Homo sapiens: one gene and its partners. The protein of the gene in region 1 purifies or fractionates together with the protein of each later gene. This does not show direct contact. Each region holds a gene or a part of one and is shown in the gene's direction. Other genes may lie near its edges. The genes, in order: DBNL, ARPC1A, CMAS and FGD6.

What was found.
Region 2: the proteins of DBNL (region 1) and ARPC1A purify together in Homo sapiens (co-immunoprecipitation; 2 studies listed by BioGRID and IntAct, with this or other methods). This does not show direct contact.
Region 3: the proteins of DBNL (region 1) and CMAS purify together in Homo sapiens (affinity purification with mass spectrometry; 3 studies listed by BioGRID and IntAct, with this or other methods). This does not show direct contact.
Region 4: the proteins of DBNL (region 1) and FGD6 purify together in Homo sapiens (affinity purification with mass spectrometry; 4 studies listed by BioGRID and IntAct, with this or other methods). This does not show direct contact.

The regions. Positions count from the first base shown.
Region 1 is NC_000007.14:44,038,839-44,048,500, forward strand, and holds the start of DBNL (drebrin-like protein), read left to right. Parts: upstream 1-5,863; 5' UTR 5,864-5,899; coding exon 5,900-5,982; intron 5,983-9,662. UniProt on the Homo sapiens protein: Adapter protein that binds F-actin and DNM1, and thereby plays a role in receptor-mediated endocytosis.
Region 2 is NC_000007.14:99,362,074-99,366,762, forward strand, and holds the end of ARPC1A (actin-related protein 2/3 complex subunit 1A), read left to right. Parts: intron 1-1,469; coding exon 1,470-1,560; intron 1,561-3,817; coding exon 3,818-3,856; 3' UTR 3,857-4,189; downstream 4,190-4,689. UniProt on the Homo sapiens protein: Probably functions as a component of the Arp2/3 complex which is involved in regulation of actin polymerization and together with an activating nucleation-promoting factor (NPF) mediates the formation of branched actin networks.
Region 3 is NC_000012.12:22,055,649-22,064,472, forward strand, and holds part of CMAS (N-acylneuraminate cytidylyltransferase), read left to right. Parts: intron 1-2,918; coding exon 2,919-3,052; intron 3,053-5,183; coding exon 5,184-5,278; intron 5,279-5,632; coding exon 5,633-5,804; intron 5,805-6,632; coding exon 6,633-6,786; intron 6,787-8,124; exon of another isoform or gene 8,125-8,279; intron 8,280-8,824. UniProt on the Homo sapiens protein: Catalyzes the activation of N-acetylneuraminic acid (NeuNAc) to cytidine 5'-monophosphate N-acetylneuraminic acid (CMP-NeuNAc), a substrate required for the addition of sialic acid.
Region 4 is NC_000012.12:95,087,271-95,096,094, reverse strand, and holds part of FGD6 (FYVE, RhoGEF and PH domain-containing protein 6), read left to right. Parts: intron 1-1,400; coding exon 1,401-1,503; intron 1,504-3,249; coding exon 3,250-3,396; intron 3,397-4,285; coding exon 4,286-4,388; intron 4,389-6,398; coding exon 6,399-6,526; intron 6,527-8,824. UniProt on the Homo sapiens protein: May activate CDC42, a member of the Ras-like family of Rho- and Rac proteins, by exchanging bound GDP for free GTP. May play a role in regulating the actin cytoskeleton and cell shape.

The DNA.
Region 1 (9,662 bases):
CCTCGGTAGTGAGGGAGAAGTAGAGCTTCTTGAAGGAGGAGGACATGAGGGGGCCCTTGCCCTTGGTCCTGTGGATGAAGAGTGGCCCCTCCTTCACAGGTGGCGCCTGCAAACTCAGCGTCCGCTGCAGGTCCAGCTCTGCCAGGCCAGGGAGGGAGGGGAATAGAGAGCCCAGGGAATGAGGGCGGGACTGGGGGGGGGGGGCGGAGCAGTGGGCGGGGCCATGGGGCTCAAGGGCTGAGCAAATCTGAACAGCAGGCAGTGGACGTAGTCATGGGGCTCAAGGGCGGAGCAAACATCAACAGCTGGTGGTGAGCGGGGTGACAGGTGGACTGAGGAAGGCAGGGCCATGGGCTTGGAGGCGGGACACGCGTCAGTAGCAGGTGGCGGCGGGGCTATGGAGCTCAAGGATGGAGCAAATGTCAACAGGCACAGATGATGGGAGGTGAGGCCATGGGTCTAGGGGTGGGGCAAACGTCAACAGCAGGCAGTGGGCAGGGTCACAGGAAGCACAAACAGTGGTGCGTGGGTCTATGGCCTGGGGGCCTGGCAAATGTCAACAGCAGGCGGTGGGTGGGGCCACGAGAGGAACAAACAGCGGTGGGTGGGGCCGTGGGGCTCAAGGGCGGAGCAAACGTCAGCAGTAGGCTGTGGGCGGGTCTGTGCAGGGCGGCGCTCACCGTCCTTCTCCTCGATGTCCACGAGCTTGGTGATGAAGTCCTTCAGCTGCGCCACGCCCTGGCGCACGGTGGGCTGCAGCGGCTCCATCCAAGCCTCCTTGGCCCTGGAAGCCGGCGTGTCCATGTTGCCCACGTTCTGGACTGCCTGGAGGTGACAGCAGGAAGGACCAGGTTCTGCTAGGTTAGGGGCCTAGCCACTGCACCCCCTCCCACCCCCCCTCCCCAAGTCTTTGCTACTCAGCTGTAGCGATGGAGGCAGAGGCGACAGAGGCCATGCCCACGGGCCCCCTCCAGCCCCACTAGGGATCAGGGAGGAGAGGATCATGAAGTTTGATGCCTTATGATAACTGAGACCACTTGGGCCTTCCTCTGTAGGTTTAACTGACGCTGCTGCACTGGATACCCCACCCCGGTGCCGGGCACATAGGTGCAGCCTGAGAGTAAGCAGACCTGGGTTGGAAGGTCCCGCGATTCACCACCGACAGGATGGGCGGCCTTGGCAACCCCCGACCCCTCGCAGGCCTGTTCCCTTATCCATGAGATGGAACTCGGACAAGGTGGCCACAGGAAGGCTTTGCAAACTGTGAAGTGCAGTGCCTACGTGGGCGTGCCAGTGGCCTCGCCGGAGCCGGTAGGGAACACTCTGCAGTCCAGGCCAGGGCCCCGGTAGGACACCCAGCTGTGCATCCCGCCCGTGGCCGCAAGGCCCGCACCTTGGCCAACAGGAGCAGGGTGCGGCTGGTGCGGGCGTCCGCGTGGCGCTCCCGCAGGTGGAAGAGCTTGGGCGACATGATGGCGGGAGAGAAGAAGCGCAGGCACAGGAAGCTGGTGACGGCGATGAACGGTACATTCTGGAGGGGTGCGGAAGAGCGCGGGCTGGAGTCCCCCAGACCAGGGCTCCTGGCAGCCCCCTCCCCTTAGGCTCCGTCCCTGACCCTCGCCGGGACACAGCCTCCCTGGTCCTCCCCAGCGCTCCCTGGTTCCCCACCGCTCTTCGCCCGCCCCTCGCCCCAGCCCAGTCCAACCCGGCCCAGCCTAGCCCAGCGGGTGGAGGGCGCACCTCGTGCTGGGCGCCGGGGAAGCGCTCGCGCACGCGCCGGAAGAGCTGGCGGAAGGTGGCGCGCACCACGGCGGGGCACGCGGGAACCGAGCGGCTGAGCGCGCTCAGCAGGGCCCCCAGGTGGGCGCGCAGCGTCTGCGCGCTCTGCTCCAGCACCTCGGCCTCGGTCTGCGGGCGGTGCAGCCCGGAACACCTGCGTGGAACGGGGCGGGTTGGCAGAGGAGGTCACGGTCAGCGCCAGGGCCACGACAGGAACAGTGGCTCTCACAGCAGCCGGGACACGGACACAGGGGACAATACACGGGTGGGCAGAAGCACAAACACACATGCTGACAGGGCCTGATCCCAACCCGCTGCCGCTGCGCCCCGCACCCCCCCGGAGTTACCCCCGGCCTCACCCTACATCCTTAACTTCCACTTTGCTGGGGTCCAGCTCCACGTACTTCTCCTCAAACACCTTGTTGATGATGGGGCCCAGGACGCCGTGCAGGTACTGCATCCCGGCCACCTGGGGACCACCGCAGGTCACATTGATCCTGTCTCCCCCAGTCCCACTCCAGCTGCCCACCTTCTCCCGGCAGCCGCCCTTGCACCGTTTGCCTGCCGTATCCGCCCAGGAGGGGGACAGGTACACAAGCAGGGCAAACTGTTTATTCATGAATGAATGAATGAGTGAGTGAATGAATGACTAGAATTCTTAGCCCTTGTAATCCTAGCACTTTGGGAGGCCGAGGCAGGAGGATCACTTGAGGCCAGGAGTTTGAGACCAGCCTGGGCAACATAGTGAGACTGTCTCTAACTTAAATTTTAATCACACACACATTCTTTTGGGGGGGGGGGGTGCGGGGCACGGAGTCTAGCACGGGGCCCAGGCTAGAGTGCAGTGGCGTGAGCTCACTACAATCTCTGGCTTCTGGTTCAAGTGAGTCTCCTGCCTCAGCCTCCCCAGTAGCTGGGATCACAGGTGCCCACCACCATGCCAGGCTAATTTTTGTATTTTTAGTAGAGATGGGGTTTCGCCATGTTGGCCAGGCTGGTCTCGAACTCCTGACCTTAAGTGATCCGCCCGCCTCAGCCTCCCAAAGTGCTGGAATTACAGGCATGAGCCACTATGCCCAGCCACATTCTTAACCTTAAAGGGCTCTCAATATGGAGATAGAACACTGGAGTCGAAGTCCCAGCCCCCTCTGTCGCTCTCTCTGAAGCTCAGTGTTGTCATTTGCAAGATGAGGACAATATAGCATGCAACCTCACCTTCAGAAAAGACTCCATGGACTTTGAGGCCAGAGAGTTGCTCCGGAACAGGGTGTTGGTCTTTTGTTACTTGGTCATAAGTAGGCGTTTTCCTTTTGATTTGGTTCTAGGAGGTTAGTGTGCATTGGCGTTCTGTTGCCTGCTTCCAGCCCCTATTCTCCTGCCTCAGGTTCATTAGAAAAGACTGAGTTTGGGGCCGGGCAGGGTGGCTCACACCTGTAATCCCAGTACTTTGGGAGGCCAAGGTGGGCAGATCACGAGGTCAAGAGATCGAGACCATCCTGGCCAACATGGTGAAACCCTATCTCTACTAAAAATACAAAAATTATCTGGGCATGGTGGCACGTGCCTGTAGTCCCAGCTACTCAGGAGGCTGAGGCAGGAGAATTACTTGAACTTGGGAGGCAGAGGTTTCAGTGAGCCGAGTTCGTGGTCACTGCACTCCAGCCTGGCTACAGAGTGAGATTCCATCTCAAAAAAAAAAAAAAAAAAAAGAATGAGTCTGGCCCCTTTTTGTCTTTCTCTCATCCTCTTTGCCTTTCACCATGTTATGATGCAGCAAGAAGCCCCTCATCAGATACTAGTGCCATGACCTTGGACTTCCCAGCCTCCAGAACTGTGAGAAAATAAATTTCTGTTCTATGTAAATTACATAGTCTGTGGTACTTTGTTATAGCAGCACAAAACAAACAAGACAACAAGCAACAATCATGTGAACAGAAAGAAAAATGGGCATAACAAATGAACCATGTTTTTGTCCAAATTAGGTTCACAAGCCCTTATCTGCACCATCCAGACTCAAACACCTTAAGATTTTGGTAGTTCATTTGGTAGCAAAAACTGACCTTAATTGTCATGAGGATATTTAGAGTCGTCTTATATTCCACTTAGCTGATTATTCACACATATCACACACTTAGCTGATTATTCACACATATCACAGCAAAAGCATGAACATGTCTGATTACCAGTTCCTGTCCAGATCCTGTGATAAGGGCTTACCCAGGACATACATGGTATAACTTTTCTGAAATCTTAGATTGAATTCCAAAGCACATCTGGACTTAAGGGATTGTGGATATATACATATATATACTATATGTATATATATACACATATGCATATATATACATATGTGTATATATATACATGTGCATATATACATATACATATGCATATATAATATATGTATACATATACATATGCATATATATACATATGCATATATACATATACATATGCATATATACATATGCACATATACATATACATATGCACATATATACATATGCATATATACATATGCATATATACATATATGTATACCTATACCTATGCATATATATACATATATGTATACCTATACCTATGCATATATATACATATATGTATACCTATACCTATGCATATATATACATATATGTATACCTATACCTATGCATATATATACATATATATGTATACCTATACCTATGCATATATATACATATATGTATACCTATACCTATGCATATATATACATATATGTATACCTATATCTATGCATATATATACATATATGTATACCTATACCTATGCATATATACATATATGTATACCTATACATATGCATATATATACATATATGTATACATATATACACACATAGTATATATACATATACACTATGTGTGTGTGTATATATATACACATATATATACTATGTGTGTGTATATATGTATATATATACTATACTTTTTTTGAGACAGAGTCCCGCCCTGTAGCCCAGGCTGGAGTGCAGTGGCGCTATGTCGGCTCAGTGCAAGCTCTGCCTCCCTGGTTCACGCCATTCTCCTGCCTCAGCCTCCCGAGTAGCTGGGACTACAGGCGCACGCCGCCACGCCTGGCTAATTTTTTGTTTTAGTAGAGACGGGGTTTCATCGTATTAGCCAGGATGGTGTCGATCTCGTGACCCCTTGATTCGTCCACCTCGGCCTCCCAAAGTGCTGGGATTACAGGCGTGAGCCACCGTGCCCGGCAGGATTTATATTTTAAGGAGGCAGGGGAGTTATTCTCCATGGGAGGAAATAAGCCGTGAGCTGCCTTGCGCTTTGGCATGTTTCTCTATCATACAGATAAGAAGCTAGTTCAGTCAAGTGTATGCAGATTTGTGGATGGAAAAACTGGTGCTCCCAGGAGGAGGGGAGCAGATTGAGGAATTACTGACACCTTCTAGGGGCGACCAGCCAGATGTGCAGGTGAAGCACAAGACAGGTTCTCTTCATGCCTCCACTATCCTGGCCTCGACCAAACTGCAGAGGGAAAAACTCAGGTGAGAGTGAGAAAGCACAGTCACTTTCAGTTAGGTTTGTAGCGGTGTGATCGTCACTTAGCACTCATTTATTCGTGTATTCATACATTTATGCATGTTTCTTTCACAGATCAAACTGTTGAGGGTCCACAAACAGGCTGAAGACCTCGTCTGGAGGGAGACTGCAGTGAACCCAAGATCGTTCAAATAAGCGCATCGACATAACAAGATTTAGAAAAGAATAAGCACGGTGCTGTGAGAGCAGCTAGCGGGGGCTGGACTGGGTCCCTGCGGCCAGGCTTCCAAGTCGAGCTGCCGTTTGGGTGGGACCAGAAGACGGGCTAGTCTGCGCCCCAGGATCCCTCCCTGAGGACAAACAGAAGGCCGGGTCCTCCCTTCTCCCGCTTGTCCTTCGGCATTCGCGGGACCTGCATGCTAGACCAGCTGGCCGGACAGCTCGCTAGGACCCGCGGGTGCGGCTGGCCCCTACCATTTCCGCTTCCTGCCGTGGGGCGGGGTTTCCGGTTGTCGGAGGCGAGGCTTGTCGGCTGTCAAAGGGGCGGCCCGGCCCGGCCCGGAAGCTACAGCAGCGGCGCGGAGACTGCGGGGCGGGCCATGGCGGCGAACCTGAGCCGGAACGGGCCAGCGCTGCAAGAGGCCTACGTGCGGGTGGTCACCGAGAAGTCCCCGACCGACTGGTGGGCGGCGAGACGGGCCAGGGTCGGGCCAGGGGCTGCCTCAGGGGTGGGTCTGTCTGGGGCGAGCGGGGGACTCGGGGGGAGCGGGAGCGCGAGCGCGGAGCGGTGCCCAGGCAGGTGGCCTGGGGCTTACCTGTCTGCCCCTCCACACCGCAGCAGGAGTGCTGTCTCACCCTCGTGACCCCTTGCCCCGCCGATCGTGGACAGGTTAAACCCGGCTTGGGGGGACCCAGTGAGTCCCCGCCCCTCCCCCTGTCGCTCGCCACCCACTGTGGGCTTCGCGGGCTTCCATGTTGGATCCTCGGCCTGGTCGTGCTTGCTAGCTTCGCCAGGTTCTTCTTTCCAGTCCTGGGACTTCCCTGGAGAAGGGGTTCCTGCACAGCCCTCTCTGAGAAGGCGGAAGCCACGCCCGGTTTTTTTGCAAACGCTGTGTTCGGGGATGGGCATTTGAGAGCGGCCTGGCAGCCGGGCTGTGAATGTGAGCCCTGCCCTGGGGGCTTCAGACGAGGAGCTCAGGGATCTGGGTTCTTGGCTGTCTGTGAACGTGGACTTCAGAACTTTCGTTTCTCCAAAAAGTGTACTCTTTCTTGTGCCTGAGCCATGGGAAGATGTACGAAAGTAGGATGCTCGCTATCTATTTGGGAAAAGGTCCCATTTTCCCTCTACCACCCAAGATATCCTCACTTTCCTCTTTGCTTAAATTGTTTTTACTGACCAGTTTTGAGAAATCCCAGTTCTGAGAAATATGCTGAGTATGGTGGGCTAAGGTGACCAACTTTGGGGAATAGAAACTGGGCCTTGGAGTCTGAGTCGTGGTGGGGCCACACTGTGGTCAGCACTGAGGCCCTCCCAACTGTCTTCCCCTTGTGTGGGGGCCATCTCCACTTGTGTAAGTGCTTTCTCATCTCCTCTGCTCTCCGTAGTGCCCAGCACAGAGCGGCTTTTATGCAGTGTACTATTGTGACCCTGAGGATGTTATGGCTTTGCTTTTTCCTCAGCCCTGGGCCATTAGGGGAAGAGCTTTAGAACACCAGTTGCTTGGTTCTATGGGGTCTCTGTAGACTCTCCTGTCAGGTCTGAGTGCCCTGGATGGCACTTATGCCAAACAGCACATCTTCTGTTTTGGAGGCATCTAAAGAAGGATATCTCGTCATTTCCTTGGTGGGGTTTTCTGCCTGCTTTATAATCCCTCAGATTTACCCACGTCAGTCAGTGTTATTTTTCTCAGGAGAGTTTCTAGATGTCAGCCCTCTGTTTTGCCTCTCTCCTATTCCTGTTCGTGTTTCTCTTAGACCTCTCCTGTTACTTCAAACCCAGTCAAAAGTATCTCTGCAATGAGTGCCCCATTTTCATGTCCACATCATACCACTTGGCTTTAGAACCCAGAAGAATCTTTGCCCCTCTTCAGCCCTGCCAAATTAAAGATTTTGCTTCTTAACATGCTCTTGATCACTCTGTTTACCCTGGCAGACTTACCTAGGAGCTTCCTGGCACTCCTCATCTATCTCCCTTCCAGGTCTCTCTTCATCATCAGTCTTCTCAGGAACCATCACTGGTTTGGGATGATGCCTCCCAGCCCACCTGGCAGTTTGGGCTTCCCTCTTCAGACCTCCTATGTTCCTAGCCTTTCCTTGGGCTGCTTACGAGAGCTGTCTGCTACCACTCCTGGCCCGGTGCTTACCCACCCCATCTACTCTCTGTCCCTCATGAGGGTTGTGGAGCCTCCTCTTTCCCCTCATGAAGTCAGAACCCACCCATCTCACTGGACTCATCTGCCCAGACAGCCATGCTATGCTCCCTCCCTACCTCCAGGCTCCTGCAGCACTACAGGTTGTGTCACTCAGCAGCATAACCCACTGACCTCCACCCTCATCGTCACAGCCATTAAGGTAGTTACTCAGCAGATACTATGTGGCAGATTCCTGCACACTGCGGAAAAATATCTGGACCATGTCACTTCCGTGTCTGTAACTCTACAGTGGCTTCCTGTTGCATGTTGAATAAAGCCTAGACTCCTTGCCCTGCTGATGCCCTGCATGACCCAGAACCTACCACCCCTTTCATTTACCACACTGTGGCCACACCTGTTTGTCACCACTCTGGCCGTCTTTCTCTTCCTCAAACTTACAAGCTGGTTCCTCTTCAGAGTCCTTGCTCTGCTGCTTCCTCTGCATGGAGCACACTTTTTCCACATCGTCCCAGGTGGCTCCCCAGCCTTCACTTCTTGGCCCCGAGGTTGCCTTCTCAGAGAGGCCTTCCTTGATTCCTAGCTCCTTGTTTGTAGGCACTTTTTCCCATCTTTCTGTTTGACTTCCTTCAGACACATGCCAGACACAAAATATGCTGGAAATCCTTATGGATTTTCTTGTCACCTTTATCTCTTACTAGAAGGGGTGGGGTGGGCTCTGTCTCTGTCCTCGGTGCTTGAGGCACGGTTGTTACATGTGGCAGATGCTTAGATGAAGGATGGACCAAGTCATACAGAAAAAGTGGTAGAGATATCAGAGGAAGAAGAGGTGGTCTCTAGTTTGGTGGGTCATAAGAGGTTTCACACACACAGTGCTGGCATTGGGGAGGGCAGATAGAGTGGGGAGCAACCATGACATCAGCTCTCCATCTTGGATCTGTCTCCCGCCCCTGCTTACTCCGTATCTTGGCATGGTTTGTTCTCACCTGGTTCATGTGTCACCTTCAGCACCTGCTTCACTCTCTAATAGTACGTTAGTGTTAGGTGTGTGTTTTTTCTTCCGTTAGAAAGTAAGTTCCATGGGCAGGACCTTTTAGGGATTGTTCATAGCTGCATTCCTGTAACTAATAAGCAGTAGGCTCTCAGTACTTATTTTCAAAGGCACTATTGAATTATAAGATGCTTGACACTCCATATGCCTTGCTGTTCAGAGGCCAGTGCACCATGTTTTTTCATGTTGATTTGAAACTTCCTTCGCCCTTCTTTCAAAAGGCCTCTGAACTGGGAATGAGCCTCTGCGCTGGGAACATTCTTAAAGGTGGCCTGGGGTAGAGAGGGATCAAGTCAGAGGGATAGGTGGCAGGCATTGAGCTTGGCTCTTATTATATTAGCTGCTGAGTCCCTTTTTTTTTTTTTTTTTTTTTTTGAGACAAGAGTCTTGCTCTGTCGCCCAGGCTGGAGTGAAGTGGCACGATCTTGGCTCACTGCAACCTCTGCCTCCCAGGTTCAAGTGATTTTCCTGCCTCAGCGTCCCAAGTAGCTGGGATTACAGGCACCCACCACCACACCCAGCTAATTTTGTATTTTTAGTAGAGACGGGGTTTCCCATGTTGGCCAGGCTGGTCTCAAACTCCTAACCTCAGGTGATCCACCCGCCTTGGCCTCCCAAAGTGCTGGGATTACCGGCATGAGCCATCGCAGCTGGTTGAGTCCCTTCTTGCAAGAGCTGGGTTGAGCTGCCATCTTCTGTTACCTGCTGCTTGTGCCAGCTTGCTATCTTCTGGGAGCCAGGGCTTTGTGGCCATCAAGAGGAATGGGCTTCTTTCCTCCAGGGAGTTCCCCCCAGCTCATGCTGGCAGTGTGCCACCTCCCAAATCTTTCTCTTGTTTTTCTGTGTTCTTTTCTCTAGTTCCTTTTCTCTGAGTGTTTCTCATTCAGTGTTTCTCTCCTGTATTCTGTCTCCCCTCCTGGTAAGGAGTGCCTTTTCCCGGAG
Region 2 (4,689 bases), about 55 Mb from region 1:
CACTTGAGGTCAGGTGGTCAAGACCAGCCTGACCAACATGGCAAAACCCCGTCTCTATTAAAAATACAAAAATTCGCCAGCCTGGTGGCAGGTGCTTGTAATCCCAGCTACTCGGGAGTCTGAGGCAGGAGAATCGCTTGAACCTGGGAGGTAGAGGTTGCAGTGAGCCGAGATCGCACCACTGCACTCCAGCCTGAGTGACAGAGTGAGACTCCATCTCAATAAATAAATAAATAAAATAAAAATGTAAAACCCCGCCCCCCTTTTTTTTTTTTTTTTTGAGATGGAGTCTCTGTCACCCAGGCTGGAGTGCAGTGGCACGATCTTGGCTTACTGCAAGCTCTGCCTCCTGGGTTCACGCCCTTCTCCTGCCTCAGCCTCCCAAGTAGCTGGGACTACAGGCGCCCGCCACCATGCCTGGCTAATTTTTTTTTTTTTTTTGTATCTTTTAGTAGAGACAGAGTTTCACTGTGTTAGTCAGGATGGTCTCGATCTCCTGACCTCGTGATCTGCCCACCTCGGCCTCCCAGAGTGCTGGGATTACAGGCGTGAGCCACTGCACCTGGCCTTTGTTGTTTTTTTTTTTTATTTAAGCTCACAGGCTGTACGGGCATAGGCAGTGTGTGCCATAGTTTGCCATCCCCTTCCCAGCGTCGGGGAAGAGGCGGGTAAGTTCTAGACATCTCAAAGGAGAAAGAAAAATATTGTCTGAGCAATGGATGATTGTCTTGAAAGCTTCCAGATAATTAGGCTAAGACAAGTTGTTTCATTTATCTGTTCCCCTGCTTAGCTTGGTCGGAATCTAGTGGTGTGTCTGCTGCTAACATTTATGATGATTCACTTCAGACTCAAGGAGGGCTGTTGGCTTATCTGCACTGGCTGTCTTGGAGGCTGATTTGAGAGGTTTTGTTTGGAGCTATGGAATTCAGTCATGCTTCATCATGCCTCTGGTTTATTTAAAAACAAACAAAAATACTGTTTTCGCCATGGCTGTGGTCCTACCCACAACCTGCTCCCAGCATTTGAGTGCTGTGTGGGCTGGGTCATTCCTGCTTCCCCAGGTCACGCTAACCAAGGCAAGTTCTTAACTTCTCCCCTTGCCAGTTTTGTCTTTCCTGGACATCTGGTAATAATATGCTTTGGGGTATTTTCTGAGCCAGATTGTTGCAGCCTAATGTTCATGGATAAGTTCATAATCAGGAGTTAAAAGATAATTCATTTCCTGGTGGAGCGTGGTGGCTTATGCCTGTAATCCCAGCATTTTGGGAGACTGAGGCAGGAGGATCACTTGAGCCCAGGAGTTCAAGACCAGCTTGGGCAACATAATGAGACCCGCATCCCAGCTCTATTTAAAAAATAAAGAAGAAGATAATTCATTTCCTTAAGCTGCCCTTACACTATTAGTCAGGAATGTTTGTGTTCACTTCCACTACATACCTTACGATCTCTTTTGCTTTGCTTTTTTTCAGTCAAGTCTCTATTTATGAGGTGGACAAGCAAGATTGTCGCAAATTTTGCACTACTGGCATCGATGGAGCCATGACAATTTGGGATTTCAAGGTATTTTCTACCTAACAGAACAAATTTTGTTTGTGTTAAAACTTTTTTTTTTTTTTTTAAGAGATAGGCTCCTTCTCTGTCACCCAGGTTGGAGTAAGTGGCACAATCATGGCTCACTGCAGCCACCAACTCCTTGCCTCCAGCAGCCCTCCCACCTCAGCCTCCCAAGCTGCTGGGACAGCAGGCATGCACCACCATGCTCCGTGAATATTTTTACAAAACTCTTATGAGAAGAATGTTTCTCATTTCTTGAAACAAAATGTTAAATCTAGTATACAGTTTAATGTCCTAATGTAAGACATTAAACTGGAAATCTCTCATTTTTTTTTCTTTCTTTTTGAGATGGAGTCTTGTTCTGTCACCCAGGCTGCAGTGCAGCGGTGCAATATTGGCTCACTGCAACCTCCGCCTCCCGGGTTGGAGCGATTCTCCTGCCTCAGTCTCCCAAGTAGTTGGGATTACAGGAGCACACTACAACACCCGGCTATGTTTTGTATTTTTAGTACAGACGGGGTTTCACCATGTTGGCCAAGCTGGTCTTGAACTCCTGGCCTCATGTGATCTGCCCACCTTGGCCTCCCAAAGTGGTGGGATTACAGGCGTGAGCCACCATGCCAGCCTTGGAGATCTCTCTCTTTTTTTTTTTTTTTTTTTTTGAGACAGAGTTTCGCTCTTGTTGCCCAGGCTGGAGTGCAATGGCAGAATCTCGGCTCACCACAACCTCCGCCTCTGGGGTTCAAGCGATTCTCCTGCCTCAGCCTCCCAAGTAGCTGGGATTACAGACATGTGCCACCACGCCCAGCTAATTTTGTGTTTTTAGTAGAGATGGGGTTTCTCCACGTTGGACATGCTGGTCTCGAACTCCCAACCTCAGGTGATCCACCCGCCTCAGCCTCCCCAAGTGCCAGGATTACAGGCGTGAGCCACTGCGCCCAGCCAGAGATCTCTTTAAAACCTAAAAGTCATCCGCAGAAGAACGGCACATTCTCAGTGAACTGGAATTTTTACTTCTAGATGTCCATTTATTCATTGAGGAAAAATGGAGTGCTGTTTTGGAAACAGGCCCTATTGGACACCAGCCCAGGTTTAACTATATAGATATATATTTATAGCTGACACTAATTAATTTAATAAACATTTAGTACATATCTCCTGGGTGCCATGCATGATGCTGAGCACTGAGAATATCCAATCTGAATGAGCCTGTCTGGTAGAAGAGAGAGGTGGATACGGGGGCTGGGTAGGGGATTCGGCAGAGCTCAGAAGAGAAGCCAGTGCCTCTGTTTTCACACAGAGGAATCTAGGGGGATGCGTGGACTGCAGGGAACAGGTTGCACCTGAGCGGCATCCTGAGTTGCGATGGGTTTTGGAGGGAGGGACTGTGAGTTGAGAAGACACAGGCGAGCATCCTCGGCTGCAAGTGCAGCACACCCAGGGCAGCCCTGGGCTTCAGAGAGCGCACACTGCCTCTGAGGCGCTGCCCGTGCTGTGGTCCTCCGGAAGCACAGATGGAGCTAGAAAAAAGAGCTCTAGGTAGCCAGGCGCAGTGGCTCATGCCTGTCTTCCCAGCACTTTGGGAGGCCGAGGTGGGAGAATCGCTTGAGGCCAGGAGTTTTGAGACCAGTTTGGGCAACATAGCGTGACCCCATCTCTATAAAAAAGCCAGGTGCAGCCAGGCGCACTGACCCACTCCTGTAATCCCAGCACTTTGGGAAGCTGAGGCTCGTTTCTCCTCACTGCTTTCCTGTCTTGAGCACAGGAGTTCGAGACCAGCCTGGGCAACACAGTGAGATCCTGTCTCTATTTAAAAATATACATATATATATTTTTAAAAACCAGGTGCAGTGACGCATGCCTTTAGTTGCAGCTACTTGAGAAGCTGAGGCAGGAGGATCACTTGAGCCCAGGAGTTGGAGGCTGCAGTGAGCTGTGGTCACACCACTGCACTCCAGCCTGGGGCAACAGAGCAAGACCCTATCTTTAAAAAAAAAAAAAAAGAGGAGTGAGGAGTGTGCCCAGAGCCTGTGTGTGTGGCAGTGGGGAAAAGGCACACCTGGCCTGGAGGAGCCAGCAGGGGGAGCCCCGGCCTGGAGTGTCTCTGCGGGGTGAGTCCTGGGAGATCCTGTTTCAGGTGGGGCAGGGCCAGGTTCAGGGTGGGGACAGGCAGAACCTTCCCTGAGGAAGAGGGAGTGGTGTCATACCTACCTCGGGGTAGACACTCCTCAGTGACATCAGTGCTCTTCCCACCTTTTCCAAGACCCTCGAGTCTTCCATCCAGGGCCTCCGGATAATGTGAAGCTGAGTGAGCCTCCGCCATCCAGCATGACAAACTGTGGCCGACCGCAGCTGTGCCGTGGCACGATGGCGAGGAAGCCAGCCCCAAGGAAACACTGAAAACACATATCACGCCAATGCCGTGTGGTTTTGTTTGAATATAAAATTGGTGAAAGTGTTGGTTTTTTTAAGGCAGTAATTTTTTTGTTTGTTTTTTTGCGATTTCATTCCATTCTTGACCAAAGCTTCTCTTTAAGTAGTTTATTATGGAAAATTGTCACACTAACTTAAAAGACAGGGTGAGGGAGATATGTAAATTGTCCACTAGAAAATTAAATAAAAGAACTGAATGTGGTTTTGGTTTTGTTTCCTTGTAGTATTTCAATTTTTAGTAGAAAAATATGAGCGAATTCTTCATTCGATTCAGTTTTTTTTAGGCAAAATCTTAGATCCTTGGTTTCTTAAATTGTACCATTCTATACAACCTTGAACCAAAAAGCACCATTTAGTGAGGGGTGAGAGAGAACCGTTTCTGAACATTGCAATACTTCTGCAAAGTAGGTTGTGTCGGTCTGTTTTGTGTTGCAATAAAGGAATACCTGAGGCTGGGTAATTTGTTTAAGAAAAAAGATTTATTTGGCACACGGTTCTGCCGGTTGGACAAGAAGCATGGTGCCTGCGTCTGCTTTTGGGGAAGCCTCAGGAAGGTTTTACTCATGGCAGAAGGCGAAGGGGAAGCAGGCGTGTCCCATGGCGGGAGAGGATGCAAGAGAGAGTGGGGAGGACCAGGCTCCTTGAAACAACCAGGTCATAGAGTGAGAACACACTCATTCCTGCCAGGGGGCACCAAGCCAT
Region 3 (8,824 bases), on another chromosome or scaffold:
GAGAATCAATTTTTTTGTATATAAATATCCTTTAGGCATGAGGAGAGTAAAAGGGGAGCTGTAAAAGAGAGTATTTGACTCATTACTTTAGTAGGTAATGACATTTACAATCAGCTGTAAATCTGTTATCGAGCCAACACAGCTAGACCAAATTAATTCTTTGCTTTACTCTTTACAAAGGGACATTCTAATCCTCTTATTTCTGTTTGCCTTTTGAGGCAGATATGCTGTTTTTCTAGATCAAATACTTTTATGTTTGTTCTAGACATGTTTGATGAACTCCATACAAGTCATATAGAGATAGAAAGCATCCACCAAAGTGTTCTGAAGGATTTCAAGAATGACATTTTGAAGTTCTTCCCCAAATTCCTAACTCCATATATAAGAAGGGTTCCCTAGGGTTTACTAGGCATTTTGCCTGCCATGTCCAGTGTGCTATAAATCTTATCCAGAGAATTATTATAAACACTGTGTTTTTCCATTCAGTAATGTACATTTTAGTTGTTTCGTAGGGATTCCATTTTCTGTTGAAATTTTCCATTTTTTTATCCATTTTAAAAAAAGGTCATTTCCTCTAATTTAACATATTTTTGATAGCTATTTGAAAGTCCTTGATTGCAAATTTCAACATCTAGTCACTTACAGTTCTGTAATCTGCTTCTTTCTTGATTGTGAGTCACCTATTTCTGCCTCTTCATTTGGCTCATGTTTAATTGTATATCTGGCATAGACACTTGAGTACATATTTTCCTCCAGAGAGGGTACACCTTTTCTTCTATCAGGAAGATAGGATAAGGGGCTGATCACTTTGATTCAATTAGGAGTTGGGCTGGGTTGAAACTTTAATTTCATCTCACCTCTTAGTATAGGTGTCTTATTAGGAGATACATCTTGTATGTGTTACTGACACTCACACCCATACCCTACTCTTGCTAACAAGACTAAGGGATCTGATGACCACAATACTATTATGATGTCTCCCTGCTTTCCAGCCCATTCCCAGCTTCCCACCCAGTACACTCAGCCAAAGTCTTGTAAGGGGGAAGCATTAGGTGGGGAAAAACGAGCTATATGTTTGTGGTTCCTACAGATGACAATCTGTAACTCAAGTCCACAAGGTCATTGAAAGCCCTTCTAGTTTTTGCCTACCTCAGCAGAGTCCCTCTGATTATGCAAAGCTTGATCTTTCTTGTACCTTCTCCTCATACTCAGCAGATATGACCAGGGAGAAAGCAGCCACCGATACTAGGAAAGATTTGTCCCTCTCTTTTCTTCAAAGTACCACTTGAATTATCTAGTTGGTTTATTACCTGTCTCTACCCCTAGATTGTATACTTTTTGAGAATAGAGAGAGTTCTGGTCACTACTCTGTAGCCAGTGCCCATAAAGCTATGTTATCTCTAGCTATTTAATTTGTATTTGCTAAGGTTTTTTCCTGGGTTATTTCAAACACTGGGGTGGAATTGAACAGGGGATGATTTCGTTAAACAAGTAAGTAGAGGTTATTCCTAGAAGCCTGTATAAACACAGAAATGGCAGCAAAAAGTGAAGAAAGATTCTGGAGAGTAACCAGCTATTACACACACACACATACACACACACACACACACACACACACACACACACAGATTTGAGGAAAACTCAGTGGAAAGGCAAAGGAATCTCTACATGACAGTACCAAAGTCTTCATTGATTACATTATGTTCTATTCATTAATGTTGACATTACTGAGCCTTTATTATCAGGTATACTCATAAACATAATTTATTATTATGTTTAGTATATTTTTAACTAATGGTAAGAATGTATAATATGTTACATAAACATTTTCATCAATATAAAATCTTCAATAATTTAATGGAGAAATCTTTACTTTTCAGCAATAATTGTATAAAAACAAGTTCTCAACCACATTAGATAAATAAAACTTATTTCTGTATATGCAAACAATGAGAACTAGATTAAAGGGCCCAAATATTAATATAGGTATTTTATGACAAATTCAGTTCTTTTAAAGCTACTTTAAGGTTGTCTTGATGTCCTCCCAAAGCATAATATTTGTATGAATACCTTAATTGTTCCACATTTCATTATAAAATACTTTAGTTTTCTAGTAGCTATTGGAAAGCAAAGATAAATCATCAGAATTATTACAGATTTTATTCCTTTAAAAAAGTTCTTTTTTTTTTTTTTGAGACAGAGTCTCACTCTGTTGCCCAGGCTGGATGGAGTACAGTGGCGCAATCTCGGCTCACTGCAATCTCCCCCCCCCGGGTTCAAGCGATTCTCCTGCCTCAGCCTCCCAAGTAGCTGGGATTACAGGTACCCACCACCATGCCCGGCTAAATTTGTGTTTTTAGTGGAGATGGCGTTTCACTATGTTGGCTGGGCTGCTCTCGAACTCCTGACCTCAAGTGATCCGCCCGCCTTGGCCTCCACAGTGCTGGGATTACAGGCGTGAATCACCACATTCAGCCTAAAAAAAGTTCTTTATCAGGCCGGGTGCAGTGCCTCATGCCTGTAATTCCAGCACTTTGGGAGGCCGAGGTGGGCGGATCACGAGGTCAGGAGTTCGAGACCAGCCCGGACAACATGGTGAAACCCCATCTCCACTAAAAATACAAAAATTAGCCAGGTGTGGTGGTGCATGCCTGTAGTCCCAGCTACTTGGGAGGCTGAGGCAGGAGAATCGCTTGAACCCAGGAGGCGGAGGTTGCAGTGAGCCAAGATCGCACCATTGCACTCCAGCCTGGGTGACAGAGCGAGACTCTGTCTCAAAAAAAAAAAAAGAAAAGTTCTTTATCTAGATAAAGAAATGCTCTGCATTCTGAGTTCATTTTTATTAACTTTTTTAGTTACTAAATTAACACTTTCTATATTCAGGGCAACGTGGACTTACTCTAACTTTTTGCTTTTAGTTCGTGAAGTGACCGAACCTCTGAATTTAAATCCAGCTAAACGGCCTCGTCGACAAGACTGGGATGGAGAATTATATGAAAATGGCTCATTTTATTTTGCTAAAAGACATTTGATAGAGATGGGTTACTTGCAGGTTTGTACCTTCATTTTGCATAACCCTTTTAAGCGCTTTTGTAGGCATACTTTGAGTTCTAGGGAAGAAGTATGGTACAATTTCTTTATGATAAAGAAAAGTATCAACCTATAGAGGAAAGGTAATAGCCAACAACATTTGCTATCTGAGGCATTTATCCTGCAGGTTTACCCCAAAGTGATCTTTGGAATCCATTCAGTAAATATGCAAGGAATTCTGCTACAACGATAAAAAAATGAATCAAGTACTGGGTGTCTACACATGTCCTGGTACTCATATTATTCCACTCAAAACTACGTAATCCATGTTTGTGTTATAGTTATATTGTGGCTGTAGGGTTGAATAACTTCTATTGCTTTAAAAAGACAAATAATTTCATAGAGGTGAAAAGAGTTACAACCTGGGTGTCAGGAAACCCGGAATCTTTTTATATATATATATATATATATTTTTTTTTTTTTTTATTATACTTTAAGTCAACTGCCTCTTACTATGTAAGCTTGAATATGTATCATTTTATCTGTCCTGACTCTCATTTTCAAATAACAGATTTAATGTCTCTCTCATTTTAGAGCCTGCAACATGGTTGCATCATATATTTCTTAACTTGTTAATTTTAGTTATCATTATTATTTATTATTTACTGTGTACTTCGGAGTAGGTGAAACACTTTGCATATGTTATCTTATGTAATCTGCATAGCGAATGAATGAAGTGGACATTTCTACCCAGTTTTACAGAGGAGGAAAACTGCCTCACTGAAATATGAAGTAATTGACTCAAGGCAAAAACAGCTAATAAATGGTACTGTCAGGATTTGGATTCAGGTTCTTATGTTACTCAAGAAATAGCGGTTTTAAAGAGAGAGAGAGAAACCTCTCCATTGTGTAATAAAAATTCTAATGGGACTATTATTCTGAGCAAAAGAGAGAAAAACATTTTTACAAATCTTCTGGTCAATGTGTAGGCAAACTATAGACTAGCTGTTTAGTTAAATTTAAGTGTTCAGAAAAATTGGATTTGACACACATAGATACTACCATTTTTAAGCTTTTTTCTAAGGAGGACCATGATTAACCCATTCCTAAAGTGTGGAGAAAAATGTTTCTCATTAAAACAAGGTTTATGAAGAGACTGACAATTCTGAAAAAAAAAATGAAATTGAAATTGTCCAGTAATTGATCTTGTCATTCAAATAATTACTATCAGAAGAAAGACCCTTTCTCTTGCTGACCCTTGCCTAGAATCAAGAGACTGCCCTTGCCTTTGCCTGCATGTGACTTGGATGACTATTAGTCATTTTCATCAGTAGCTCAGAGATCTAAGAAAACTCTGTACAACAGATGCTACAGTTATTTTTCCTCCCCTGTGTTGCCTGTTAGTTGCAAATTAGAACAGAAGTTCCAAAAACCTTAATACTGCTTTTGGATGATGACAGGAGAGACTTCTTGAAAAAAAGGAGGATATGATTAAGGGATTTCCACAAAATCCCTTGTGGTCAGAAACCTGGAGGATGTAATATTTCTGCTTTTTTCAATATTAAAATAGAAATTTTCTTAAATAGGGAACTTGAACTGTTTAGATAGAATTTGAAAAATGTTAAGGTTATTTCTTTTGTGTGAGCTTTCTCCTTAAAAAAAAAAAAAAAAAAAAAAAAAAAGCTGGGCGTGGTGGCTGAAGCATGTCATCCCAGCACTTTGAGAGGCCAGCTTGAGGCCTCAAGAGGATAGCTTGAGGCCAGGTTTCCAAGACCAGCCTTGGCAACATAGCAAGATCTTATATCTACAAAAAACTTTTTAAAAATTTAGCCGGACATGGTGCTGTATACCTGTAGTACCAGATCCTTAGGAGGCTGAGGTGGGAGGATTGCTTGAGCCTAAGATTTCAAGGTTATAATGAGCTATGATTGCACCATTGCACTCCAGCCTGGGAGGCAGAGTGAAACCCTGACTCGAAAAAATAAAAAAGTAAAAATAAATTTAAAAATCATTTTTATGTGACTGATTTTTACTGGGTTATTCATTTTTCTCAGTACTGTAGAAATGAATTCATTGTTCTGTATTATAATAAAGTTTTGATATATGTGAATGAATATTAAAAACAGTATTCATGACATTTATACTACCTTTAGGGTGGAAAAATGGCATACTACGAAATGCGAGCTGAACATAGTGTGGATATAGATGTGGATATTGATTGGCCTATTGCAGAGCAAAGAGTATTAAGGTAAAAACAAATAAACCTTTATAACCTTTGTACTAAATCTTAATAATTATATTTCTAGATACTGATTTCTGATACTTCAGACATCTTAGGATCTTTGTAATTACTTTGTTCATGTGAGGAAGACATGTAAAATATGTGTTTACATGGCTTCAATAAAGTGAGAAACATTATCTGGCTAGACCACACTACTTTTACTTACTGTACTATATGTTAAAATATATATGTGAAGTAAATTTGGAGAGTAATGTTTGAATAATTGAATGGAGGGTGACATTTCATGTATTGGTTTAGCCAGATGAGAGGGAGTGATTAGTACTGCACTTGTACTCAAAGGTCTATTTTGGTTTCTTTTAGATATGGCTATTTTGGCAAAGAGAAGCTTAAGGAAATAAAACTTTTGGTTTGCAATATTGATGGATGTCTCACCAATGGCCACATTTATGTATCAGGAGACCAAAAAGAAATAATATCTTATGATGTAAAAGATGCTATTGGGATAAGTTTATTAAAGAAAAGTGGTATTGAGGTATGTGCTCCCTGAATATAGCAGTATTTTATAATATTTTGATTCAGGGTCAAAGAACATGCAAGGAATTAAGAGATTTAAATTTTTAGTATTAACTCTTAAAATATCTGAAATTTGGCCTTCATACGCCTAGAAAATTATTATACTATTTAGTTTTAGATGAGTAGAATTAGGAATTTGTTAATCAGCAAATAATATTTCTTGTTTATTCAGTAAATATAAACATAACTACTTTTAAATGGGAGCTATCTAATGTTTCCCAAAGGATCTTGCAGCAAGAAAGATTCCCTAGATAATAGGTGTACCATTTTAGAAAAGGACGATATCCTGTGGATTTTTAAAATCTAGCTTATTCTTATGAATGACATTTTTGATTCAAAATAACTTAACGTTTAAGTGTATTTTTTTAAATGAAAGCTAGCTAAGATAATTATAATTTACCAGAAATCCTAAATATGTATTGCTAAGCAGCACAAGAGAGAGGTTATAGACTTTCCTCTGGATAAATTGAATTATAGGAGAATCTTAGAGTAGTATCAGACAATATATGTTGTAATTTTTACCTGTAGATAGAATCCTTTCTATTGTAGAAAATAAAATACTGTGTCTCACCTTTATTGGGCTATGAGAAATAAAATGAGCTTTGTTTTAAAGCATCATGATTTTAATTCGACAGTCAGTTTTCTTACTTGGACCTTCAGAAAGTCAAAAGATGACTCGTTTGTGATTTGGACTGTCTACAAGGTCAATTATTATGAAAGATTTCTGTTTTCTTCACTTTTTAATTTTTCCCTTCTTCCTCCAATCCTTTTTTTTTTTTTTTTTAAGGTGAGGCTAATCTCAGAAAGGGCCTGTTCAAAGCAGACGCTGTCTTCTTTAAAACTGGATTGCAAAATGGAAGTCAGTGTATCAGACAAGCTAGCAGTTGTAGATGAATGGAGAAAAGAAATGGGCCTGTGCTGGAAAGAAGTGGCATATCTTGGTTGGTATCTTTTTATTCACCCATAGTAAAATGGACCAGGAATTAATTATTTACTTATTTTTAAAGAAATGACAAAGCACATCCTCCAAATGGGTATGATTGTAGGGAAATAGGAACTCTTTTAACAAACACTGCTGATCAAACTGTTAAACTGGGACAGTCTTTCTGGAGGTTAGTTTGATAATAGGTATCAAATGTAGAATGATTATTAGCACAAGCTGTGAAGTCAGACTGTACCACTGATTAGCCAGTTGTGATAAGATGAATGTTGTTTCCTCATCTGTAAACTGGAGATATCGAGAGTACCTATTACCGTAGGGCTCTGGAAGGGATTAATAAAATAATATGAGTAAAGCACTTAGCAGAATTTCTAGTACATATGAATTACACTCTGAATAGTTTTTGCTGCTAATTGAATGTACATACTTTTTCCTCCAAATTCCAATTCCAGGAAAGAAATGAGACAAATGGGCCAATAGTGAAGTTAAAAGAACCCACTTAAATGTCCTGTGAAAAATAGAATATCCCTAAAAAGGATTACTATGCAACCATTACAAACAGTGCTGTGACCTGTATTTATTTGCATGATCAAATATAACAATGTTTTTCACTTGGATATTAAGCAATACACTTACTTACCAGGTACCTATGATGATACGCAGCATGGAACTGGTTGTGGGAACTGTAGGCTTTCTGCTTGCAGAGCTTACAGTCTGATGATGTCAACATTTTAAAATTGATAAGTTATTAAGATGCATAATAACTATAAATCATGTATGAAAGCAGTATTTACAAGGGTAATATGAGCCTCAAAATAAGAAGCACAGGAAAAACTTTGGGAGCATGTGATCTAGAGACTTCAGGAATAACCCTTAAACCACACATGAAGATTTAATGGACATAAATGCTGCAGAATGTTTGTTAAAGACAGATCCAATTTTTATTAGAAGAAAATTTTAGTGGAATGTATAACAAATTCCAACTATACTTATTATCTTTCTTTGGGATGTTAAGCAAGCTTCTGTATACCTTAGTTTTCTACTTAGAATATAAACACAAACCAAATTTTATAAAGCCATTAGAAAGAAAAACAAAGATAATATAAAATGCTTAACATAGTGCCTACAGATAGTAATAAGTGTATCATTTATATAGGTAAAACTCTAGAATTATATGTGTCAAAATGTAGTGATTATCTACAAATAGTGATAATTAGGATGATTGTGACTTTTTTGCTTCTATTTTTTAAAAAAATATTTCTACCACGAATACGTATTACTTATATGACATTAAAAAAAAAACACACACACACACACTTTAAAAGGAGAGGTAAGAAAATGGAGAAGAGCATTTACATTTTTATTTAAAACTCACAGCAGGCCAGGCATGATGGCTCATGCCTACAATCCCACCACTTTGGGAAGCGGAGGCAGGCAGATCCCTGGAGCTCAGGAGTTTTAGACCAGCCTGTGAAACATAGTGAGGCCCCATGTCTACAAAAAAAAAAAATAATAACTCACTCACCAATGTTTTATATGGGTGACATAAGTGTATAAAAATATATTTCTTAAAAAAATCAATACTTTTATAAGTAAAATTTAGTAAATAGAGCTTAAAGGCTGGATTATGCAAATACTAACTTTTTTTATTTTAGTGAAAACGATTCAAATTTCAACACATTTAATAATAAATGAGAAAATTTCAGTAGATAAGCATAGAACAAATGTAAAAGAAACTCTCTTCAACCAAGATTGTACTATTGTATGTGGTCTAAAGTATAGTAATAGTTTTACTCAGAATGGTGAATTAAAGATACTGGGAGCTTCTGAAATGCATCCTATTCCAAAAAAGGGGTTAACAGAGAGGGAGGAAAAGGATATCGTTATGTCAGTATGATTTAGTATCTATTTTTATTCTTTAAAAATGGTAATTTTTCAGCAACTATTAATAAATGGCATACCAATCAGAACCATTACAGATTAAAAGAGATTTAAGAGATTATATATATATAAACAAAAGACCATATGTTAACCTTATT
Region 4 (8,824 bases), on another chromosome or scaffold:
TGATTTTCCTGTTTCATAATTTTCTATTTTAAAACAAATTGCAGATATCAGGTCATTTTACTTCTGCTTTTTTTTTTTTTGGAGACAGTGTGTTGCTCTGTCACCCAGGCTGGAGTGCAGTGGCACTGTCTCGGCTCACTACAACCTCCACCTCCTTGGTTCAAGCAATTCTCCTGCCTCAGCCCCCTGAGTAGCTGGGATTACAGGCATGCACCACCACACCCGGCTAACTTTTGTATTTTTAGTAGAGACAGGGTTTCACCATGTTGGCCATGCTGGTCTCGAACTCCTGAGCTCAAATGATCCACCCGCCTTAGCCTCCCAAAGTGTTGGGATTACAGGCGTGAGCCACCACGCCTGGCCGATTTTACTTCTGTATACCTCAAAATGCCTCTGTAAATTAAACTACAGACTTTTTTTTTTAACACAGTCACAATCCCATTCTGATGAATTTTGTTTTATTATGATGGAGTTTTAATTATTTATTAAAGTCTTTCTTTCTCTCATTCCCTCTCCCTTCCTCTTTTCTGCTCTTTCTGTACTGTGTATGTATAGATTTATATATTTATTTTTATTTATAATACCTAACATGTGCCTCTCAGTTTTAAATATACAAAACAAAATTTAAACAGTGGTTTCATAAGTATGCTGATACCAGTAATGATTTGGAGTTAACATGGTTTTGGGAAAAAGGCATGGTTGGAAAAACAGAAAAAAAAAATACCCTTGTCTGACCAAGTTTGCCCCTATTTGGCCCATTCCCATCTAGCGCTGAATTAAAGATACCTCCTGATGAGCTGGGTAGGGACAGAGAACTTGGTGGGTGAAATAGGTAGAGAAGCCCTAACAAAAACTGCAGCCTTTACCGTGTGAACCTCATTGTCAACATCTGCTTTCTAATACAAAAAAATATGTTCCCTTCACCCCAGTGCCCTTCCTAGAAAATTTTAGTAATCCTTAGTAATCTAAAGATATTTAGTATTCTATGCTATAAATTGGAATTTGAAACTTGACTTATTGGAATGTTTTTAAATTCTAGGATGATGTCTTAAGAAACTCCCTGGCTATATAAATAATCATAATTATTAATTGTACAATTATCCTTTAAACCAAACCAAAAATATTTTCAAGTTTAGGAGAGTTCAAAAGCTATTTAATATAAAGCAGAACTTTTGGAAAGAAAAAATAAGCATTGTATTTGCTAAAATGCCATCACGGGTTCTCTGTTGTCTGTTCTGATGATCTGTTCACTAAACCTGCCTCAACTCTGAGGAGTTGCTACTTTTTTGACTGGTATTGTTGGAGGGTGGTGGGATCTGTTGCCATGGGAGAAAGAAAAGAAGAAAAAGGAAAAGAACAAAAACTGACATCTGGTTGATGAAACCTTTTGCCCCCAACAGTTCTGCCACAGAAAGGGATGAATGGCTAGAAGCGATTTCCAGGGCAATAGAAGAGTATGCCAAGAAAAGAATCACCTTCTGTCCTAGTAGGAGTCTTGATGAGGTATTGTTTTCTCCTTTTTTTTTTTTTTCCAGTGCATTTCAAAGTTTTTACCTTAAACATTTCACAGGGGTTTAAGAAAGCAACATGTGTTTCAGAAAATGATTGGACTGGACATCAGAGAGTTACTCTACAGATTAATGTCTCATTTCAGCGCTAAAAGTTTATCCTCCTATTGTTGTCTCACTGCAAGTCTGTGATAGCATATAGCATATTCATGTTTCTTCCCAGCTATAAAACTTCATTGTAGGAAATTTAGAAAATACGAAACAGTTTAAGGCAGAAACTAATCAGCTGCCATCCCACTACCACAGGCGTCTTTTTAAGTTAATTTTGTATTAGAAAATTTTTAGATTGTAGCTAAACTTAGTATTCCGAGCACGTGAAAAATATAATAGCCCATATTTCTTTTCTTTTTCTTTCTTTTTTTTTTTTGAGACAGAATTTCACTCTTATTGCCCAGGCTGGAGTGCAATGGCGCAAACTCAGCTCACTGCAACCTCTGCCTCCTGGGTTCAAGTGGTTCTCCTGCCTCAGCCTCCCTAGCAGCTGGGATTACAGGCATGCACCACCACGCCCAGCTAATTTTGTATTTTTAGTACAGATGGGGTTTCACCATGTTGGCCAAGCAGGTCTCAAACTCCTGACCTCTGGTTTTCCGCCTGCCTCGGCCTTCCAAAGTGCTGAGATTACAGGCATGAGCCACTGTGCCTGGCCAATAGCCCATATTTCTTTTTTTTTTTTGTTGAGATGGAGTATTGCTCTGTCGCCAGGCTGGAGTGCAGTGGTGCAATCTCGGCTCACTGCAACCTCTGCCTCCCAGATTTAAGTGATTCTCCTGCCTCAGCCTCCCAAGTAGCTGGGACTACAGGCACGTGCCACCATGACCAGCTAATTTTTGTATTTTTTTTTTTTTTTGAGACAGAGTTTTGCTCTTATTGCCCAGGCTAGAGTGCAATGGCACAATCTCGGCTCACCACAACCTCCGCCTCCCAGGTTCAAGCAATTCTCCTGCTTCAGTCTCCTGAGTAGCTGGGATTACAGGCATGCGCCACCATGCTAATTGTCGTTATTTTTAGTAGAGACAGGGTTTCTCCATGTTGGTCAGGCTGGTCTTGAACTCCCAATCTTAGGTGATCCACCCGCCTCGGCCTCCCAAAGTGCTGGTATTACAGGCGTGAGCCACCGCGCCTGGCAATTTTTGTATTTTTAGTAGAGACAGGTTTTCACCATGTTGACCAGGATGGTCTTCATCTCCTGACCTTGTGATCTGCCCACCTTGGCCTCTCAAAGTGCTGGGACTACAGGCGTGAGCCACCATGCCCAGCCAATGGCCCATATTTTATCCCCATCTTTTTTGTTTGTTTGTTTTTTGAGACGGAGTCCCACTCTGTTGCCCAGGCTGGAGTGCAGTGGGACAATCTCAGCTCATTGCAACCTCCACCTCCCAGGTTCAAGTAATTCTCCTGCCTCAGCCTCCTGAGTAGCTGGGATCACAGGCACCCGCCACCACACCCGGCTAATTTTTGTATTTTTAGTAGAAACAGGGTTTCACTGTGTTGGCCAGGCTGGTCGCAAACTCCGTACCTCATGTGATCCACTCGACTCGGCCTCCCAAAATGCTGGGATTACAGGCGTGAGCTGCTGTGCCTGACCCTCATCCCCATCTTGGTAGTGTGAGATGCCACTGCCGAATAAAAAGGCAGGCAGTGTGCATGGAGATAATCAGAAGTTGTTCTTCTTCCACAGGCAGACTCAGAAAATAAAGAAGAAGTTAGTCCTCTTGGATCGAAGGCTCCCATCTGGATTCCTGATACCAGAGCCACAATGTGTATGATCTGCACAAGCGAATTCACTCTCACCTGGAGACGACACCACTGCCGGGCCTGTGGAAAGGTTGGCGATGATAACACCCATCTCCATTGTGGTCTTTACTGTCTCCAGGCTGTACATAGTGAGGAAGCATATTTCCCCTCATAAACCATTATAGTTCAAGAATAACAATAACTATTATTATTATTATGTTAATGGTAGCAAACATGAATGGTGTTTTCTCTAAATATTTAGGGGGCAGGGGCAATCTTCTTAGTGAACTTCCACCCTCCTACTTCAGAGTTACATTAGAACATCAGTAATAACTGATTCAAAAACAAAATCTAACAAATCCACAATTAAACAGGCCCTCACATTTACAGCTATTATTTAAACTGCATCTCTCTAGTACTAAGTATCCATAGTATTCAGTACGGGGAATGTTCAGTGTTGAAGTTATCTCTAGTGATGTTTCTAAGCCTTCATGATCTCATTAGTAAAATGGGTGTAGAAACAGTGACATCAGAGAGTCACTCTAAAAATTAAATGAGGTTGTATTTAGAGAGCATTTAGTATGGAGCCCAAAAACTTGGTAGAGTTGCAGAGACGTGGTCGTTGCTGCAGCAGTGATTATGATGATGACAGTGCTGGTGATCAGTATACCTCACAGGCCTTTTTGCATGCCAGGTACGGTTCTAAGCATTTTGCATATATTAACTGCTTTACTTTATTATTTTATGTAGTCAGCCCTCTGTAAGTAATCATCTGTGGCCCCTTCATCTTTCAAGTGTGGTACTATGCATTAGTTCACTATATGCCTGAACTCCAGAGTTATTATTGAGACGAAGTGAGACTCAGTGACTCTGAAACTGTTTTGAAAAGTGGATAGCACTGTAAATTGTAACATACTTTATGGTGTAGAAACACAAGTTATTCTAATGAAATTAATGACATAATTCCAATGTGTTTTCAGATTGTATGCCAAGCTTGTTCGTCTAATAAGTATGGCTTAGATTACCTGAAAAATCAACCAGCAAGAGTATGTGAACATTGTTTCCAAGAACTGCAGAAATTAGGTAATATATAAGTAAGGATTTAACCAAAAATTCCTTTATTCCCCAGATGCTTTCAAACAACCTTCTGAGAGAAACACCTTCGGTACATTAGCAATATGATTGTTGATACTTATCTCCAAATTTGTAGTAAGCTTTCTTAATTCATATTTTGTTGTAATTCTGGGAGAGGTTGGGCTGAAATTTGGTTTCAGTCTGTGTAAAAGGTTTTGCTAAGAAAACTGTAGAAATGTAATTACAGGGTAAAACACTTAAAACAGTAAAAGGGAACTTTAACTTTCAAGTAATTTTGAAGTCTATAGTTTCACATGATAGTGTGCTCATTACAAATCATTTTATCTATATGTAAAGTAATTCTCTTTACTTAGGTGGCACTTCGTTAGCTTAATTCTAGTCAGTTAATCTGATTTAGTGAGATGTTAATGTACATCTGAATGTGCAGCTTTTTGACCGAACACAAAAATGATACTTCCTATTTCCCTGCTCATTATTTGCAGGTATCCTCCAGTAAAATGAATGCAGCTTAGCAGGACTGCTCAGGTCTATGTTTTGGGAAGAGATTTTTAGTTAAATTCCTGAAACCTGTAGGATCTAAATTTTATTTATATATATTTTTTGAGATGGGGTCTTGCACTGTTGCCCAAGCTGGAGTGCAGTGACACAATATGCAACCTCTGCCTCTCGGGTTCAAGCGATTCTCGTACCTCAGCCTCCTGAGTAGCTGGGATTACGGGCACGCGTGACCACGCCAGGCTAATTTTTGTATTTTAGTAGAGACGCGGGGCGGTCTCACCATGTTGGCCAAGCTGGTCTCGAACCCCTGACCTCAAATGATCCACCCGCCTCAGCCTCCCAAAGTGCTGGGATTACAGGCATAAGGCACCACGCCTGGCCAGGATCTAAATTTTTGAAAGTCTGTTCTTCATTTCCCTGAAGGATAGCTTTTCATTAGCAAGGAGGAATTTCTAAGTGGATGACATGGTATTTCAGAGTCCACATATTTCTAGATGAATAATTTATTATTATTTGTGTACATTTTCCAAGAAGACCCATCCATCTCTTCCTTTATGTTCCTCTCTTTAGTCTGGGTATATGGTATAAGCTGCAAACATTCAAAATTCGTCTTTGAATTCTCCTTCCTCATCACCTATACCCATTTGGTCAGTAACTCTTGTCAATTTTATCATCAAAAATCTTTGTCTTGATTTCTCCATCCCAGCCCTAATAAGGCCTTCGTTATCTCTCATCTAGACAACTATAATAATTTCCTAACAAGTTTTCTTGCTGTTAGTCCTTTCTCCTTAGTACTGCCAGATATAATCTATTTTTCCAAATTTAATCTGCTCATGTCACTCCCCAGCCTAAAACATATAAACAACAGTCCAGTTTGCTTCAAACCAGCCCCTTTTTTTTAATCTGGCCTCATTATTCTCCAGATAGATGATTTAATTTCATACCTCTCTGCCTTTGCTCATGCTGACCTCTTAGCGCACAGTGTTCCTCCTGCTTGTTTTAACCTGGCAAATTCCTACTTACTCCATCATGGCCAGCTTTTATCTTATTATCTTCTCAGCTTTCCCTGAACCCTCTGCAATCAGAATTCATTACTTCTTCATCCGTGTCCGATAGCCCCCTTTTTTAAGCTGCTTTGTTCATTGTAGCTGGTCTAGTATCTAGACACTTAACAATACCAGGGTTCTTTGGGGTTTACGGCAGTAGGGAAGGTTTTTTGGATTTTTTTTAAGTTGGTAGTATAGTCACGTGTTTCATAATTCTAAAGGCACACAAGAGTAATCCTTTCACATAAAGTTCAAAAAGTATAAAACCATAGATAGTAGAAAGTCTTCCTGCCACTCAACTCCCAGCCATCCATTGTCCTTTTCCAGGAGTTATCAATGTTGTTTCTTAGTGTCCTTCCATGGATATTTTATGCAACAGTGTTTATGGATTTGAATGAAATTGAATTGCAAAATGCTGAGCATTGCCTACATAAGCATGCCTGATTTGTTCTAGATCACCAGCACTCCCCTAGGATTGGATCTCCTGGAAATCACAAATCTCCTTCAAGTGCCTTATCATCAGTCTTACATAGCATTCCATCAGGGAGGAAACAGAAAAAAATCCCAGCTGCTCTCAAAGAAGTAAGTGTTTCCATTAAATTTGCAATGTGATAGAGGCTGAATTATTCATATGCATATAATACACCGTTTTTCTTTCATAAAGGAAGATGTCATTTCCCACAACTATTAAGTCATGAATTTTAATACTGATGATGGATGTGGCTGATGCCTCACAATCTTGCTTGGTCTCCCGTCTGACCTAAGTCATTTAGAAAATGGCTATTGAAAGGTTTAGAGAACATTTAATAGCAGTGATAGAAAGTAAAGATAAGTTGGACACACATGAATTTTTTAAAATGACTTTGAGCAAGATCCTTGCCAGAGGGAAGAAGTCCACAGGATATTTTGGGCATTTTGTTAGCATTTAGTGATCTGCACGGTTTATTTGTAGGCATTGGTTGGTTATGCACAGCTGATATCACTGATAGTAGGTTGTCTTTCCTTTAAACTTCCTTTAAAAGAAAACTTTAAATAGTGATAATAGCCTGTATGCTTAGACCTGCTAATGGTGTAATCCACAGACTTTGTTGATATCCTATCCCATTTCCTCAAATTTAGATGTCAAAGAACAAACAGCATTGCCATTTTGGCTACTCCGTTATGATCAGTTTATTAGTGAGGTCCGCCTGTGCTAGTTTTGTGGCCAGCAGAGTAGTTTTTAATTTGGTTCTCTTGCTTTTTTACTGAGGAGGTGTTCTAGCATACATAGTGGAAGGAAAGAACTCTAAAAATTTGATCAAGATCATGTTTCTTATGTAAAGTTACGAGTATATTCCCAGTTGAAACACAGTGTTTTAGAGGTTCATGGAAATTACAGCACGTATCCATACTTCGTTTCTTGTTATGTCTGAATAATATTTCATTGTTTGTGTATACCACAGTTTATCCACCCATCTCTTGTTGAATATTGGGTTGTTTCCACCTTTTGGCTATTACGAATTATGCTGACAGAAATATTCATGTGCAAATTTCTGTGTGGACATATGTTTTCATTTATCTTGGGTTTATACCCAGAAGTAGAATTGCTTGCTCATATGGTAATTCTATGTTTAACTTTTTGAGGAACTGGGAAGTTGTGTTCTTATTCTAGTAATGTTTAAAATATTTTTAGAAACTCCTCTTTTTAGAATTACATTTAGAGCCTCAGTACTCTCAGTAATGGCAGACTACAGCTTTTGAGTTGGAGTTGGATTATTTTTTTTTAATTTTCATTGCTTCTGGGGTACCTGTGGGTTTTGGTTACATGGATGAGTTGTATAATGGTAAAGTCTAAGATTTTAGTGCACCCATCACCTGAGCAGTATACAGTGTACCCAAAATGTAGTTTTATAGTCCCTCACCCCCACAACCCTGATTTATTTTGTAAATAATCAAATCATTGGAAGACATGTTTTGTGGATCAGTTAGGTGATTAAGTTGGTGAACACCAGTTTTATCTTTGAAAATATAGGTCTAGTCATGGCTATTCAGTATTATGGTTGATCTTCTTGTGTGGCTACTAAACTGGTCCTAAATTGGTATAAAGGAGAAATGTAATATATTTTGAGCAACATTAATAACAACTTAGATAAGAATATAGTAGGATTCCAATGTAACTATATTTTAAGCAAAATCTCATTTGAATGTTAAACATTCTAGTTGGATTTTTTTCCTCTTTTTTTTCACTGAGATAGGAAACAATTCTAGTTTTTTAAAAAATTACTTGGTAGTCTTTATAAGGATGTATTTATATAAACCTACTGTTGCTTAACAAATATTTCTAATTTAATGTTAGATCTTAAATTTCCCACTAAACAATATATAATTATTTTCATGAAATTTATAAGAAATTAATATAATTAAAGATACACTTTAAAAATTCACAGAGCGCATGTGTATTAGTTTTCCATTTCTGCATAATAAATTACCACAAACTTAGCAGCTTAAAACAACATACATTTATTATCTCCAGAGTCCAGGCATGGGTTAGCTGGGACTCTGCAGGGCTATAATCAAAGTTTTGGCAAGTACTGAGTTCTCATCTAGAGGCTCATCTGGGAATTCATTTCCTTGTACTTGCAAGACTGGGGGCCTTGCCTTCTTACTAGCTTTTGGCTGGAGGTCCTCAGCTCCTTGCCATGTGGACCTCTCAACATTGCTACTTTGTTCAAAGCCAGCAAGGAAGAAAGTTTCTAGAGTGTCTCCTAACAAGACAGGGCCATATATAAGGTAGCTTGATCATGGGAGTGACATCCTATCACCCTCACCAAATTCTTAGTTAGAAGCAAGTCGTAGGTCCTGTCCACACTCAGGGGGAGGAGAATGTACAGCAGTGTGACT